5 linked regions of the Homo sapiens genome follow. The protein of the gene in region 2 interacts with the protein of the main gene of each other region in a pairwise test. Each region holds a gene or a part of one and is shown on either strand. Other genes may lie near its edges.

Region 1 (3,521 bases), on a different chromosome or scaffold from region 2:
TAGTGGTTTTCCTAAAGTACCCCTGCATGAAAAACAGGATTAGAGTGCTAGAGAAGACTAGTGAAATTTGAAAAGGCAGTTCACTTGTGATGTGGACTTGTCTTAGAAACGCAAGACTGTACAGAAGTGTGATGAGGGAGACAGCTGGGTGTGTGTGTCCAGGTAGTTCCATGTTGGCGAGTTTGGAGATAGAAAGTGGCCTAAGGAAGTTTACTTCCTGAATGTGAATGTTGGCCACTTTGGAGATAGAAAGTGGCCTAAGGAAGTTTGCTTCCTGAATGTGAAGGCCTCAGTGTAGAGAGATATCATCCACTGGGAGATCACTGAAAAGTAAACCAAAACATTTTTATTAATACATGGGATGGTAGAATGTCACTCCAGTTTTGTTCCTAAAGTTCGTAGCTCTCTAAGAAAGTGAATTTTAAGCAAGTTAATCTATTTTAATGCATCACTGCTCTTTCGGTGTTTTTCTAGTAGAATTAATGATAGGTAGCTTGCTTTATTAGCTTACTGCCCAGAGAGAACATTGGTGAAATTGTTTTGGCTTCAGCTCTCTGGACTGAGTTTGGCTGCCTAGCTCAGTTTTCAGTTGGTCACCAAAACCTGTCATTGTTTTTGTGTGGTATGGGGTCTGCTGGAGTCATGTGGTAGTGCGTTTGGCCCTTCATTGAGTGGTGGAGCCAGGAGTTGAGCTGAGGGCTGTGGCAGAATTTTGAATTCAAGTGAATTCGAATGTGAAAATAACAATGTCTGGCCGGGCGTGGTGGCTCACACCTGTAATCCCAGCACTTTGAGAGGCCGAGGTGTGCGGATCATGAGGTCAGGAGTTTGAGACCAGCCTGGCCAACATGGTGAAACCCCATCTCTACTAAAAAATACAAAAATTAGGCGGGCGTGGTGGCGCACAAGTGTAATCCCAGCTACTTGGGAGGCTGAAGCAGGAGAATTGCTTCAATTCCCTGCTTGAACCCAGGAGGTGGAGATTTCAGTGAGCTGACATCGCACCATTACACTCCAGCCTTGGCGACAGAGCGAGACTCTGTCTCAGAAAAAAAAAAAAAAAAGAAAGAAAGAAAATAACAAGGTCATAGCAACACAGCAAGTGGTCAGAATTTTACCCTTGGTGGTTAAAATTAAACATCCTCTTTTTAATACAGGAGGACAATGCTCTTGCTCCTCTGTTGCACTGGTGAGCATTTGATGTGTTCCTCCTTGCATTATGTCTGCAAATCGTTCTGGTGTCTGGTGGCATGCATTTGCAAGACATGGATACAGTTCATGGACGTGGACGAGGTCAGCTGGCTTTTAGTGTCAGGCTTTAACCAACCTAGTTAAGAAGGACGCTGACTCTTACCATAAAAGCACTGCAACAAGATTGGAATTGGAGCTCCAACGAATTGGAGCCATTCGTTTTGTGTGTGTGTGTCTGTTTGCCTGTGTGTGTGTACAGGGTTAATTACTTCTCTGCAAGGCAAATTTCCTGACCGGTTTTATTGTTCTAACACAGACAAAATGTTGTGTAAACACATATATCATTCCAGTGTGTTATCTATAATAGGAGTGTTCATTGTGGATCCAGTGTTTCACAAAAATCAATTCATTTCCGCTCTGAACTTAAGATAGTAGATTTTAAAACCAAGTTATCTTTCAATTTCTGAAGTTATCTGAAACTCAGCTGCCCCAGTCTTGCAGAATTGGAGAATTGCATTTTGGCCACTGATGAATGAAAGCTATATAGCTAGTAATGAGAGAAACCTTGAAAAATTGACAAGAAAATGAGTGCCATTCTTGGTATATAGCAGATTTCAATGAATAGTAGTTCCCTTTGCCTTTATTTTTCCTCTTTCCTGCACTTAATATAAAGAGCTAATATTAAAGTCATTAAATGAGAATAGATCTGTATTATAGGTAGCACTGCTTATTTTTAGACCCCTTCAGATACAGTTATTACAATTGTTGTTTTAATATTCTTTAAATGATTACAGGAGGAAGAAACTTGGTAGCGGGGTTACCAGGATGTTAGCTCCATGAGGGCAGGGAGTGTATCGCTGTTGTCCAGGGGGCTAGCCCCAGGCCCTAGAGCAGCGCCTGCTGCCTGGCAGACACGCAAGGGTTATTTGTTGGTTTATTAAATCAAGGAGTGTTTGAGGTCCTTCAAGCCTGGAGGCCCGAGGGCTCTGAGCTGGTACAGAGCAAGTGCTGGGGGCAAGAGAGACAGGTGGGGAGTGAAGGAGAGAGGCCCACTTGGGACTTGACTCTGAATGTCTGGGAAGTAGGAAGTTAATGTAAGTTTTAAGCAGGGGAGTCCCATGATGTGCTTTTGTTTAAAAATCTCCTTCTGAGTATCATGTGGGAGTGGATTGGAGGATGGATAGAGAGGAACATTCCATTGACTCGGCTTCCAGCTGTCTATGGATGTTGACGTTTCTACCTAGCCTTCTGCTTTATCTTTGTGATGAGGATAATGTGGTGTACTTTGTGAGGTCTCAGGAATGGTTTGAGATGAATGGTAATTTGTGTAAACTTTCCGGAGTTTCTCTGAGGAAAAGAGAACCCCATAAAATTATTACTATTGATCAAATGAAATAGCAGTGTAAGACAAAGATCAAGAATTATTTAGCTTTATAAACAAATTAATTGAGGTTATGAATATAGGTTTCTATAGGAGAGATTTTGTTTCCTTTTTTTAGTGAAAGAAATCTTAAATGTATGGGAATGAATCCTTAAAATAGCAGGCTTTTGCATTGTCTATAGAAGCTGTTCTCTTTGAGGAAGATCTGTTTTGTAAAATGCTGCTGTTGTCTGTCCAATCTGGAGTTTTAATTAGTATCAAAGGGAGGGAAATCCTGCAGTAATCGTAACCTTACTTTAATTCTTAGTTCAATTAGTTTTAAACCACAGTCATTATCTGTTATCTTTAGTTGTTTTGATCTTGGTAGATGAAGTGATTAATATTACAGTTGTGATTTGGTAATTTAAAAAATAACATGTTTTTTCCTACTACAAAAGGAATACATGTTTATTGAAGAAAACTTTTGGAAACATATATAAGGAAAGAAGACTAAAAGCCTACCAAGATCTTACCATCCAGTGATAATGACTGTTAATACCCTGTGAAGGTCAACATGCTCAAATTACCCAGCAGGTGCCTGGTGTGAAGCTACTTAGCCCGGGAGAGTTGAAGGCCTGTTAGGGACCACGAGCACTGAAGGTGGCAGGACGGTCCAGGGCCAGTCAACCCAGACCTTTGTGGTTCTGGGAGGATGCGTCCTGGTGTTACTACACCTTATAGTTATTTAGGAGAATGTGGGTTTAATATGAAATCTTCTGATTTTTATGTGGGCCACACTTTTTATTGTTAACACACTGGGGTTCAAAGCATACCTGAGGGCTGGATTCAGTCTTCGTTGCCTTGCCAGTTTGTAGCCTCAGGTACGTACAGTTTTGTAGCCTGTGTTTTTCACTTAATGTGTTGTATTTGCAGCCTTTTTTGCTACATCGTCATATATGTAATCAGTCAC
Region 2 (2,854 bases):
TTCAGCATATTCATGTTGTACCTAATGGATCTCTACTGCAGGGCCAAGACTTAGTAGCTGGGTGTGGTTAGTGGACTATTGGGCAAGGTTAGTCATTGTAGGGGGCAACTGTCTGGCAGTCCAGGAGAATCTTTCTCTGTCACTGAGTATAATGTAATATGCCAGTAAGTGATAGCAGGTATTATAGTGAATTCATAGAATATTCTACTTATGTAATTCTATTTATTCAAAGGTAGCTACCACAATACCCAGAATGTAATGAAGCTCAGAAGGCCTAGTGAAATTTTTACTATGTCTTATGTTCTTGGATTTTCTCCTTAGAAAACTCCTGGAGGGTGAAGAGACTAGATTTAGCACATTTGCAGGAAGCATCACTGGGCCACTGTATACACACCGACCCCCAATCACAATATCCAGTAAGATTCAGAAACCCAAGGTGGAAGCTCCCAAGCTTAAGGTCCAACACAAATTTGTCGAGGAGATCATAGAGGAAACCAAAGTGGAGGATGAGAAGTCAGAAATGGAAGAGGCCCTGACAGCCATTACAGAGGAATTGGCCGTTTCCATGAAGGAAGAGAAGAAAGAAGCAGCAGAAGAAAAGGAAGAGGAACCCGAAGCTGAAGAAGAAGAAGTAGCTGCCAAAAAGTCTCCAGTGAAAGCAACTGCACCTGAAGTTAAAGAAGAGGAAGGGGAAAAGGAGGAAGAAGAAGGCCAGGAAGAAGAGGAGGAAGAAGATGAGGGAGCTAAGTCAGACCAAGCCGAAGAGGGAGGATCCGAGAAGGAAGGCTCTAGTGAAAAAGAGGAAGGTGAGCAGGAAGAAGGAGAAACAGAAGCTGAAGCTGAAGGAGAGGAAGCCGAAGCTAAAGAGGAAAAGAAAGTGGAGGAAAAGAGTGAGGAAGTGGCTACCAAGGAGGAGCTGGTGGCAGATGCCAAGGTGGAAAAGCCAGAAAAAGCCAAGTCTCCTGTGCCAAAATCACCAGTGGAAGAGAAAGGCAAGTCTCCTGTGCCCAAGTCACCAGTGGAAGAGAAAGGCAAGTCTCCTGTGCCCAAGTCACCAGTGGAAGAGAAAGGCAAGTCTCCTGTGCCGAAATCACCAGTGGAAGAGAAAGGCAAGTCTCCTGTGTCAAAATCACCAGTGGAAGAGAAAGCCAAATCTCCTGTGCCAAAATCACCAGTGGAAGAGGCAAAGTCAAAAGCAGAAGTGGGGAAAGGTGAACAGAAAGAGGAAGAAGAAAAGGAAGTCAAGGAAGCTCCCAAGGAAGAGAAGGTAGAGAAAAAGGAAGAGAAACCAAAGGATGTGCCAGAGAAGAAGAAAGCTGAGTCCCCTGTAAAGGAGGAAGCTGTGGCAGAGGTGGTCACCATCACCAAATCGGTAAAGGTGCACTTGGAGAAAGAGACCAAAGAAGAGGGGAAGCCACTGCAGCAGGAGAAAGAGAAGGAGAAAGCGGGAGGAGAGGGAGGAAGTGAGGAGGAAGGGAGTGATAAAGGTGCCAAGGGATCCAGGAAGGAAGACATAGCTGTCAATGGGGAGGTAGAAGGAAAAGAGGAGGTAGAGCAGGAGACCAAGGAAAAAGGCAGTGGGAGGGAAGAGGAGAAAGGCGTTGTCACCAATGGCCTAGACTTGAGCCCAGCAGATGAAAAGAAGGGGGGTGATAAAAGTGAGGAGAAAGTGGTGGTGACCAAAACGGTAGAAAAAATCACCAGTGAGGGGGGAGATGGTGCTACCAAATACATCACTAAATCTGTAACCGTCACTCAAAAGGTTGAAGAGCATGAAGAGACCTTTGAGGAGAAACTAGTGTCTACTAAAAAGGTAGAAAAAGTCACTTCACACGCCATAGTAAAGGAAGTCACCCAGAGTGACTAAGATTTGAGTCCATTGCAAAAGGTTAAGCCATATGACAATTTCAAAATGCATGTGATTGGCAGCTTCAAAACAGAACGGGTTCTCCCATGGGGGCTCCAGACATTGTATTTTACTTTGTGCAATATGAGGGGACTGCATGCAAGCTCAGGGTGCTCCCTCCTCAGTCTTTGGGGGATTCAAATGCATGATATTGTATGTACCTGGGAAATTTGCCGATTTCCTAAGCTGTTGGAAGGGGGTCACTTAAGGGGGGATGTCTTGAGATGTATTATGCAAAGTACCAACTGAGCCAAAAACAATAAACGAAACACAGAACTCAGCCTTAAGAAAGCTATATATGAATAATTATGTTTACCTCACTGGTGCATTTAAAATGGACTTTTGTTCATGGGAGAACCTCGTTGACATGCACAGTTTGCAATCTTATGTTGATCGATGTTAAACGTCACAGCAGTACTTGCTCAATAAAGGTCATATTGGAAACATAGTCAATTGCTGAGTCTTATGTCATTTCTCTTTTTCTAATTTTTATTTATTTATTTTTATTTAGAGATGGGGTCTTGCTATGTGGCCTCAAGCAGTCCTCCCACCTCAGCCACCCAAAGTGCTGGGATTACAGGCATGAGCCACCACGCCCAGCCTGTTATGCCATTTCAAAGTGAAATCTCCACTACCTGAAGCTTTCTTGCCCTGAAATAGATTATTGGGGGGAATCATAAGTAAACTGCACATCTTATTGCTATTTCCCTGACAGCAATTACTTGGAAAACGTAATTGCTGAAGATATTTTCAGGTGTCAACATCTTCACCGAGCCCGGTCTTCATCCCAAAATTTTAAAATCATATTTTTGAAATAAAAATAAAAGCATCAGATACAAATAGGAATCTGGTGGGATAGAAATCTTCAGTGTTTGTTTCTATCCCAAAACAGAACTCAGAACCTCTAGGTAAGAGGACCAATAAAGGAGGGGTTCATAACTTGTGCCT
Region 3 (3,521 bases), on a different chromosome or scaffold from region 2:
GACACCTGTGAGAGGAGAAGGCGAAGGAGGGATTGGTTGGAGGCACGTCAGGCTGCGGTGCACTTCTGAGAAGGCTGCAGTGAGGCTGATGGGGTATCCCTGAGCAAAGGATGCCTGTTAGGGAGATCCTGCATCGGGCGGGGACGGCCATGAGAAAAGCCCTGTCACGCTTGTCATTGGCTTGCAGCATCCCAGAGAACACATGCCTCCCTTCCTGCAGCAGATGCTCTTGGTTTTTTTGTTTTGGTTTGGGTTTTTTGTTTGTTTTGTTTTGTTTTGTTTTGTTTTGTTTGAGTCTTGCTCTGTCACCCAGGCTGGAGTGCAGTGGCATAATCTCAGCTCACTGCAACCTCCTCCTCCCGGGTTCAAGCGATTCTCCTGCCTCAGTGTCCCCAGTACTGGGACTACAGGCGCCCACCATCATGCTTGGCTAGTTTTTGTATTTTTAGTAGAGAGGGGGTTTTGCCATGTTGGCCTGGCTGGTCTTGAACTCCTGACCTCAGGTGATCCTTCCGCCTCGGCCTCCCGAAGTTCTAGGATTACAGGCATGAGGCACACCGTGCCCAGCCAGCAGATGCTCTTGAAGGAGACCTGAGGTTATGTTTGCGTGGCACCACAGAAGCCAGAGTGACCATAAGCAGGAAGTAGAAACACTAGAATTCTGGTCTAAGCTGCTGTCATCTCTATACACAGCATGGCTGAAACAGAAGAGCCACGCAGAAGTTAGCAGGTAGGCAGGGCCTGGTAAGAAGGCCATAAGCTGTGGCGCTTTCACCCAAAGCCATCATGAAGACCCATAACTAAGTGGCTGGCCAAGGTCACAAGGTTTCATAGAATTGCCAGGACGAGAGCCAGCTGTCCATCTTCGCTTGGCGTCCCTGGCTCTCTCCTCAAACCCTGTGCTCTCCCTGTACTTCCAATCACATGCGGGGTTTGGTCTATCACCGTTCGTACCCAGTGGACACTGATGCCTTTGATGTATGTTTTTCTTTCAACGATGGTGTGTTGAAGGATTCTGTTACCTCCATTCCTCCATTTCTGTACAAGTAAGTTAATACAAGTAAGTAAGTACTGTAGGAAAATGAGCTCCTCCCGCGCCCAGGGAGGAGGTAGGAGGACGATTCCACCTGTCTTTGTGGTGAGCGCTGAAGGAGGATCTTGAGAAAGGCACCTGTGTGCAGCGGCATTCTCATCTCTAAAGCCCGCATGGCTTCCCGTGTGCACACAGGACATTCTGCCCATGTTTACCAAATGAAGACACCAACTAACTACCCTGTCTTTCCTTCTAGGTGACCTCATACATTTGCCTCCATACCTTAGAATGGACTTTTTGTTAAACCGAGGTGGTCCAGGCACCAGCAGGGACCTGAGCTTAGGACAAGCATGCTTGGAACCTCAGAAAAGCCGGACCCTGAAGCGCCCCACGGTCCTGGAGCCCATCCCGATGGAAGCCGCCTCCTCCGCCTCCTCCACGAGAGAAGGACAGTCGTGGCAGCCGGGGGCCGTGGCCACATTACCTCAGCGGGAGGGAGCAGAGCTGGGACAGGCAGCTAAAATGAGCAGCTCCCAAGAATCACTGCTCGACTCCCGGGGCCATTTGAAAGGAAACAATCCTTACGCAAAATCTTACACCCTGGTATAACAGACAGCATGACTGGACAGCGGTTGTAAATACAATTCAAACAATTCAATCAAAGCTACCTTTTTTTTACGGAATTCCAATATTTATAATTAAAGAAAATTGCCAAAATATATTAAAAAAAAAAAAGAGAAAATACTGAAACCACAGACAGTGCAAAGACTCTCCTGCTTTTTTTCTGTCTGAGTGTGAGCTCCATCCGCCTGGGCATCTGATTTTTTGGGAAAGAAGTCCAGTTTTATGATCTTCACAGGCTATTGCATTTTTACTGATTTTCTACAAAAGTGCATGGGGGGGATTAATTAAACCTTCTGACTGGAAGTTCTATCACACAAGAGGCAAGAAAGAAAACAGGGTGGGTGGGAAATCAGCCTATTTGTGAATTTAAAAGGAACACCGATTTGCGGGCAGGGGAAAACTTCAGTCACGTTTGCACACCTTTCTTTCCCATTAGAAACCGGGTTCTCAATTTGGTCTTCTTTTGTTGTTAATTAGGATGAGTGCCGTCAGTGAAGGGGTGGGGGGAATCAATTTGGTTTTCTCTCTTGTTTCTTTTTTAATTTAATGAGACACTCTTTGCATTTTGTCTAAGCGAAATAAAAAAGAAAAGGTTGTCTGCCTTTATTTCCATGTCTGCTTCTCTCGTCTTCTGCCAGTGGCCTGGTCCTCCTTCCCATTGACACTTCTGTTTGGAAACACCAGGCCTGAACCCAGAGCCCAATTCAATAAACCAGAGTCGATACTAACACCCTGAACTCCTCAGGAATCTCCAGGAAGCACAAAGAAGGTGCAGCTCCTGCTCTCAAGCTGGAGAGGACAAAATGCAGGCTGGTCTCCACCGCAACCAGAGGCCAGCCCAAGTATTCGAAGCCCGTCGCAAAGCTCTGCCCCTTGCCTGCCCATGGCCAGAGTTCAACTGACTGTGGCCTATGGGCCAAATCCAGCCTCCTGCTGTTTTTTAAATAAAGTTTTATTGAAACAAGGCCACATGCACTATTTGCTATTGTCTATGGCTGCTTTCATGGCACAATGGTAGAGCTGAATAGTTGCAGCAGAGATGGTATAGCCCATGAAGCCTAAAATATTTATTACCTGGCCCATTACAGGAAACATTTGCCAGACCCGTGCTCTGGAGTCTGAAATGTAGCCCCAGCTTGCGTGACAAGGGGCAAGATCGTGCATCTTACCCTCCATGACTTTTCCTATCTCCACTATGCCTGGTATGCAAATTTGTGATAGACCATCTTAATAAACATTGCCTGAATCCTCTGTAACCAGAGGAAAGTGATGTTCCTCTAAAATCTAAGTTTTTACTTTCCTTTCCCTCACTTTATCTCCCATGTGGCTCATCCTAAGAGAGAATTTACTCATAAATAGTCGGAACTGCATTCTTTATCCCACAACCCTCACAGGGTTTGCTTTATGAAAGAGGATGTAATCCTCCCCTGGCTGCAACACTCCATTCCAGGCTCACTTCCATAAAATGGAAAGATAAACAGGTCTTTGTGTCAGAGATTTGGCATTAACCAGAAAACATGATCAAATATCCACAGCTGCTCAGTCTCCCAGGCTGAAGATTCTCTACAGGCTTCCATTAAGGCCACCAACATAGACTGGTGCCAGTTATTACCATCTTGGGAACATATTCAGAAATGTCTTTCCTTCCCTCCCTCCCTCCTTCTTTCCCATCCTTTCTTCCTTCTATTTATTTTCCAGGCAGGCCCATTTGTCTGCTTAGATTCAGTGACACAGAATGGGTCCAGGACCATGTCAAGACCACCTGCTGATGCTAGTGTTAGATGACTCCAGGAATGTGAGGTGTGCATCCATGGTTTCAGAATGTAATCCGTGTTGACGTGTACTGTTTGCATACTCTCAGACT
Region 4 (3,521 bases), on a different chromosome or scaffold from region 2:
CAAGCAGTTCTCCTGCCTCAGCCTCCTGAGTAGCTAGGATTACAGGCATGCGCCACCATGTCCGGCTAATTTTGTATTTTTAATAGAAACGGGGTTTCACCATGTTGGTCAGGCTGGTCTCGAACTCCTGACCTCAGGTGATTCGCCCACCTTGGCCTCCCAAAGTGTTGGGATTACATGCGTGAGCCACTGCGCCCGGCCTAAAATTCTTAATAGACAGGTAGTTAGGTTGTAGTTCATGTTAGCTGATCAATTAAACTTTTTTTTAAAAAATGTTTTAGTTATCAGGAGGGTCCAGCTTTGGCCTGAGGTTGTGCATTGGCCATTTCTGCTCGAAACCAGTAGTAGTCAGACTTAAAACATGTGCACACCTGCACACACAGCAGCAACTAGAAAGCCTTTAGAGAGAAATATGCAGAATTTCGAAATGTAAAACAGATAAAAGGAGTAAAGCTGTTTTGTGGAAGGAAGAATAGGCAGTTGTTGAAGTCCTGCCTGATCAGTTTTCCTCTCATCCTCACCACCAGGAAGCCTTTGAAGCACAGCTGAAGAACAGTAGGTCTTGGAGAAATTTTTGCTGTAGACCTGCTCTATCTTAACAGGTAGCTGCCAGCCACATGTGGCTATTTAGCACTTGAAATGTGGCTGCTGTGACTGAGAAACTGAATGTTAAATTTTACTTAATCTAAATTTAGATAGCCATATGCAGCTGATGGCTACTGTATTAGACAGCACAGATACCCAAGGACATTTACATCATTGTATAAAGTTGTGTTGGGTGGCACTACTCTAGACTTTGCTTTAATTGAGCTTTTATGGCCTGAGGACCCCACTCACGTGAATTGACGTGGTATTAGTTGCTGCTTCAGAAGAGGGTCAGGATAGACTTTGGGAATTTGAAGAGCAATTAGAGTACTTGTACTTTATATTTGTGCTGATTTGAGTCTGGGCCTGTGTAGTGTTGTCATAGGTGCTTTTTTTTTTTTTTTAATAATCTGGGAATGATAAACCAATATGTAAGTTACGTGTTTACAAGTTGATTATAGAGTTGTGGATTCCACAAAACTCATTATAGGTGATAGGAATATAACTCTTAGTTAAAAAAAAAAAAATAAGTAGTCTCTTTACACAGCAGTCCCTATTTAATGTGGACTTTTGCTAAAATAATAATTTTCTTGAATTAAATTCAAGCTTGCATTAGGTTTGACAGTCCATAAAGTTGAACACATGAATGTTTTCTGTTTGCTTTTGTTTAAAAGACATGACCCATCATTCTCCATGGGGGCCGACCTAGGTTTCCAGTTGGCAGTGTCTTTCCTTACTAGCTTACGCTTTGGAGAGAACATAGTTGTAGTGAGAATTGAAAAATCTGTTTTTAAAAAATTGGGTTTTATGTATTTTAATTTTTTTGAGGTTTTCTATTATCCTGGTTACTAATGAATTATTTATTTGACTAAAACAGTTATACAATTCCAGGTCATTGATGCTGCTGTTTTTTTCTCTGCCTTGTAGTATGTTTGAACATAGATTGCTAAAAATCTCGGTCTCCACAGAGGATTGGTTCCGGGACTCTCCTGCAAGCACCAGAATATGAGAACGCTGAAGTCCCTTGTATAAAATGGTGTAGAATTTGTTTTATGCACATTTTATTGTTATTCTTTAAATCCTCTCTAGATTACTTAATATCTAATACAATGTAAATAGTTGTTATTCTATATTGTTTTAGAAATGATGAGAAAAAAGTCTGTACATGTTCAGTACAGTCACAGTTTTTTCCTGAATATTTTTTATCCATGGTTGGTTTAATCCATGTATTTGGAACCCACAGATAAGGAGGATTGACTGCACAGTGATTTTATATTATTTCTAGTGGGACCTTAGATGTTCTAGATGAGGCAGCACCATCATATTTAAAGTATTTTTGTTGAAATAATTAACTTTGGTTTTCTTTCTAAATAAAAATTCACATAGGTATTTGGGGAATATTTTGTATTTTCCTGCAGTTTGAAGATTTGAAATTTCTCTTCCCTCCATACCTTTTAAAAGTGCAATCTACTTTTGCTTTCTACATTTAATCACTATCTGTTCTTGACTTCAACTTTGCAAACATATTTTTTAACCATTCTTTTTCACATTTCCCTTCCTACTGGCCTTCCGGATGAACTGTCAAGTTTAGCAGTCTTTTCTCAGTGATCATACTTTCTTCAGTGTTTGCTGTTATTGTTTATACTGTCTTTATCTAAATTTCTTAAAATGACACAGACACAAGTTAGGCCCATTCTTCTTACTGTAAACAGATGAAAATGTTGGATAAAATATAAAAGTTTTCTCTTATGTATACAGTTGATCTTGAGAGAGAAAGTGCCCAGGTACTAGAAACTTAGAAAAATCAGTCAACTTTAAGGGAAGTGTGGCCTTGGGGGATTTACTAGAGATAAGATTCAGTAGTTGGGGCTGAGGTTATAATGCCATTCAATGAAAGGAGACAGAACTGTGGGAACTGTGTGCTTAAAAAAATTAAAAAATGAAAAGTGTTCTGGTATCATTGAAACATCTGGGGCTTCTTGGAGAAAGAAGCCTCAGACCTCTCTATGGAGGAACTGGAAAAACAGTAGGCTTTAGATGGACTTTAATATCACAGCAAGGCAAGGCAGGGTACATGAAAACATCTACAGCTGCATGTGGAATAGTGAATTTTTGTATACATAATCCATGACTGCAATCCAAAATTCAGGGATACCCAGTGAAGAGTCTCTTTACTGGTCTGTTCTTTGCCATACAGTTGCCTTTTCAAAGGCAAGTAGCTTTACTAGGTTTTTGTGTGGTGTTCCAGAGATTTTATGCATCTATGAACAATTTTGTGTGTATATTACCTTTTAGTACAAGTGGTCACATATGTCACTTAATAGTACATCTTATTTTGTGTCAGTATGTAATGAATGCCTTTCTTCTTTTTTGGAGTAGTGGGTTGTATAATATTCTTTTGTATGGGTGTCTGTAAATTTTTTTTTGAGACAGTGTCTCACTCTGTCACCCAGGCTGGAGTGCAGTGGTGTGATCACAGCTCACTGCAACCTTGACTGCCAGGGGTCAAGTTAATCTCCCACCTCAGCTACCTGAGTAGTTGGGACTGCAGGCGCATGCCTACCATATCCAGCTAATTTTTAAAATTTTTTGTAGAGGTGGGGTTTCGCCATGTTGCCTAGATTTGTCTTGAACTCCTGGGCTCAAGCGATTTGCCTGCCACGGCCCCTCAAAGTTTTGGGATTACAGGCGTAAGCCACTGTGCCTGGCCGGGTGTCTGAATATATCATCAGTCCTCTGTTGAATGTTTCCAGTCTTGTGGTATTAAAAACAATGCTACAACAAATAACTTCGTTTATATAGCATTTTGCTCCTTTGCAGGTATGTCTGTAAGATAGATTTCTAGGAGTAGTTCAAAGAATATCTACATTTGTAATTTATTTTAGAGAATGTACTTTATTCATTTTTTCGAATAACACATGCACATGGTATAAAAG
Region 5 (3,521 bases), on a different chromosome or scaffold from region 2:
CTCCTCATGGTCCCTTTAGCTCTCAAAAGCAATGAAATCCTCCTGTTCTCATTTTTACTGCTGTGGTTGTGCTGCTGAACAATACTATCTTCTCAAATTCCATGCCACAAATTCAGCAATAACTTTTTGGATTGAATTTAACAACTACTGTAATTGGATGCTGATGTGGACAAAATATATTGATTTCGATTTCACTCCCGAATGTGATTGCCACCAGCTCTTTATATTGCTGCTGTGGTATTTTAAACCAGAAGCTTCTTTAAATTATGTTGCAAACTGATCTTTGTTTTTATGTTTTGTTTTGTTTTTATTTCTAAGTGATAAGTTTGAAACACACAGCTTTAAATGATTTTTTTATTGTGGGATTTTGGGTACAGTTAAGAAATAAAAGGGAATCATTGTGTTTAAACATAAGGTAGTTTGTGAATGTATTTTTTAAAATCTAGAGTCATTGAAACAAATCATAAGAAAACAATATTAATGCAGTCTTGTTTACAGTATGTACAGTGACATAACATAGAACATGAGCTTTTCTGGTGCCAACAACAATAAAACACACGTTAAACATCAAGCCATGCCTTTTATATTTTTGTACTAATATTTTACACTGAGTACAAGGCAAATCCAAATTTAAATGGGCCCCCCAGAAATCTGTGCTCTTTAAAAGACAGATATTTAAAGAATTCACTGAAGCTTTTATCTTCAAAAATAAATTTTCCTCCAGCAAGACAGACCCCAGCCCTGACATAAGGAGGCCTAGAACATGCAGAATACGTCAGAATGGTGTCCTTGTGGCTCATCCAAACTTTCTGAATTGCCTTAATTCTTTTTGGGGGTAGGGGAGGAACGGTTGCTTTTCATCCATTTTTATAGCATCTCAACAAAAAAAATCTTCAGTTCTGATCTTTTTATAGGTGATTTTGTCTCTAGAAATTGGCTCATTTTATTTTTATTTTCCTACAAAGAGAAACTGGAGAAACTGAGCCCTCCCCTCAGAGTAAGTTTCACTAGATCTGCCAGTTCTTACTGCTCTAAATTAATAATCATCCAGTAAAATCTACTGAGCCTGCCCACACCATAGTCTGGGTCTGGGGTCTGGCAGGTGACCATCATTCCTGGGTGCCAGTCAAAGATACTGTAGCATGGATTCCTGCATCCAGTGGTGGTAGGAATGGATGACCAGTGAAGTTCCTTCAAATAATGAGGCTCTTCCCCCTGCCAGTTCCAGCCAGACCACTGTCATAACACACAATGCAAATGAAGACAGCCTTCACTAAGTTCCACATAAAATTGAACAGCTCTATTTTAGATAGATCTCATTATTTTTCTTGGAGACTTCTAAACAATCCTTCAAGAAGACCTAGAACTATTATTTTTATTAAACAGGGTATATTAAGTTATGGGTGAAATCTCACAAGGTCACCTGGACAGGGGCTCCATTTTTCTAACACTTTGACATTGTTTTCTAGGGTGCACTCCTAATATACTTTGCATCAAGTACATGTTTTTTAAAAACACCTTAGTTCCTGGTTGTCAAAACCTACTAACAATTTTTGTCTGTTCTTGTGACTCATTGGTAATTGGTGTCTCTGGTCCCTCCTGTCCAGTAGATTATTAGAAAGATGTGAAATTCCAGCCAGAACCATTTTGGTTTTATCCACTGCCAGGAAAGGAAGGGGCTAAAGTCTCACATTCCACGAAGCTTTTAAAAAAATGCTTTCCCTACTACTATGTGTACCAGTTCCCGTCACTGTATTCTTGAAACGTGGAAGAGCTCTTTGTGTTAACAGTGTGTGCTGTCTTTGAAAGTCTGCTTGAACAGGCATCACTTGCATTTGTGCTGATTGCTTTAAGATGTAAGATGTGCTACATTATTTTTAAGAAAAAAAATAGTTATTGATAAAACTTTTAATTTTAACCTACTGCAGGAAAACATGAGAAAATCCACAGCATGCTGATAACAATTCTGAATGATGCTACTATGCTCTTTATATTCCAGAATCACCACTGGTACCATGTTCTGATCATTTCAACAGTCTCTAACTTGTTAGTTACCTTTTAGTTCATTCTTCAAAATTTAAATCTAACCAAATCAAGCAAAACATAACCAACCAACCAAAAACTGACCTCCCCTGAGACTACATAGTTGTAACATAAATCTAAAATCCAAAAGTCTAAATTTGATTTAATTTACCTGCTAATATTTCTCATAAATGCCACTATATCTCCTTGGTCACTATATATCAGGAACCCTAAAGTAAGCTGTCCTTTCATGGATCTTAAATAAATTGGGTGTAAAATTGATCACTTTTCAGGAGTCCCAGCAAAGAAGAAAACCTCTTGAGAATTTGCAAGTTCAAAACTGACAATTTGTATATTCCTACCAAACATTTTCTAGGTTGTTTTTATTTCTACACCATTATTCTGGGAATTCTTCCATTGATAACTAGAATATTCAACAGTTTGCTTAGCATTAAACAGTGTGAGATCATAACCCTGTGCTTTGGACTTTATTCTTCTAGACCTGCCATTCCAGGAAGTGCCAGAATATACCAAAATAAAAATCCCCATAAAAGCATTTTTAAACAAAAATCCCTGGGTAATGTTTGAGTTATTTTAAATCTAGATCAAAATCTTGGATTCTTCTGAGTCCATGATGACAAATGTTTGGATGAAAAGTAGAAAATACAGTTAAAAATAAAAATGTCCTAAAGTTTACAGATTTTTGAGTTTGTGTACATATCTTCAAACTCACTCCTTGCATGATAGGGTTTGGTTTTAATGGTTTATTTTTATCAGCACCAAGTTGCATTGCACTATTGAGGCTGAGCAAATGCTGGTGGAAAGGTGAGTTTTCATTTCTGGCAATGGATCATTATTTGTACACTGTAAATATCATGCCCAGCTACCCCTTTCCCTTATCTCTTCCCCTGGGATAAATGTTAAGGAATAGTAATACTTATTATGGTATGTTTAAGAAACCTTGGACATTACCCTGAATCAAAACTTCAAATGTTAGGTGGCAGCAGGAAACAAAAGATTACAGCTTGAATGAAATTTTAAAATTGAATGTTGTAAAACTATTTTTGAACGTTTTAGCTGCCTTATTTATGTTAATATAACTGTAGAGAGATGCCAAATGTATAATATCAGAAGGGAAAACTACGATTTTGCTGTGCCTACAATTGTTTACATTTTTTAAATCTCCAGTTTTCAAAAGTATTTTAAATTGTCAAACATTTGCTAAAACTGGATTATAACCTCACCTGAGAATGAGAGAAGAAAATCTTCCTGGCATATTTTCCAGTCTGAAACTTTTGGTTACTTTCAGGTATTTTTTTTCTTGCATACAAAAATCATTGAGAAAGTACTTTCTACAGTTATTCTAAGCAGTCATTAAAAATGCTTTGATAGGTTTCCCCACATGGTAACTACCATGTCCTGGAATATAATATGCTATCTTTGTCAAAATATGAATAATAAAACATTAATCGTAGGATGCCTCCTTGTTCCTCATTGCC

Evidence for each region.
Region 1: the proteins of NEFM (region 2) and ITSN1 interact in a two-hybrid assay, tested with the Homo sapiens proteins (one large-scale study listed by BioGRID and IntAct).
Region 3: the proteins of NEFM (region 2) and DSCAM interact in a two-hybrid assay, tested with the Homo sapiens proteins (one large-scale study listed by BioGRID and IntAct).
Region 4: the proteins of NEFM (region 2) and SMAD2 interact in binary tests that used the Homo sapiens proteins (3 or more experiments, as listed by UniProt).
Region 5: the proteins of NEFM (region 2) and TNIK interact in a two-hybrid assay, tested with the Homo sapiens proteins (2 studies listed by BioGRID and IntAct).

What each region holds. Positions count from the first base shown.
Region 1 is NC_000021.9:33,648,983-33,652,503, forward strand, and holds part of ITSN1 (intersectin-1), read left to right. Parts: intron 1-3,521. UniProt on the Homo sapiens protein: Adapter protein that provides a link between the endocytic membrane traffic and the actin assembly machinery. Acts as a guanine nucleotide exchange factor (GEF) for CDC42, and thereby stimulates actin nucleation mediated by WASL and the ARP2/3 complex.
Region 2 is NC_000008.11:24,916,740-24,919,593, forward strand, and holds the end of NEFM (neurofilament medium polypeptide), read left to right. Parts: intron 1-321; coding exon 322-1,867; 3' UTR 1,868-2,354; downstream 2,355-2,854. UniProt on the Homo sapiens protein: Neurofilaments usually contain three intermediate filament proteins: NEFL, NEFM, and NEFH which are involved in the maintenance of neuronal caliber.
Region 3 is NC_000021.9:40,011,155-40,014,675, reverse strand, and holds part of DSCAM (cell adhesion molecule DSCAM isoform CHD2-42 precursor), read left to right. Parts: intron 1-1,289; coding exon 1,290-1,642; 3' UTR 1,643-3,521. UniProt on the Homo sapiens protein: Cell adhesion molecule that plays a role in neuronal self-avoidance. Promotes repulsion between specific neuronal processes of either the same cell or the same subtype of cells.
Region 4 is NC_000018.10:47,920,647-47,924,167, reverse strand, and holds part of SMAD2 (mothers against decapentaplegic homolog 2), read left to right. Parts: intron 1-3,521. UniProt on the Homo sapiens protein: Receptor-regulated SMAD (R-SMAD) that is an intracellular signal transducer and transcriptional modulator activated by TGF-beta (transforming growth factor) and activin type 1 receptor kinases.
Region 5 is NC_000003.12:171,058,389-171,061,909, reverse strand, and holds the end of TNIK (TRAF2 and NCK-interacting protein kinase), read left to right. Parts: 3' UTR 1-3,496; downstream 3,497-3,521. UniProt on the Homo sapiens protein: Serine/threonine kinase that acts as an essential activator of the Wnt signaling pathway. Recruited to promoters of Wnt target genes and required to activate their expression. May act by phosphorylating TCF4/TCF7L2.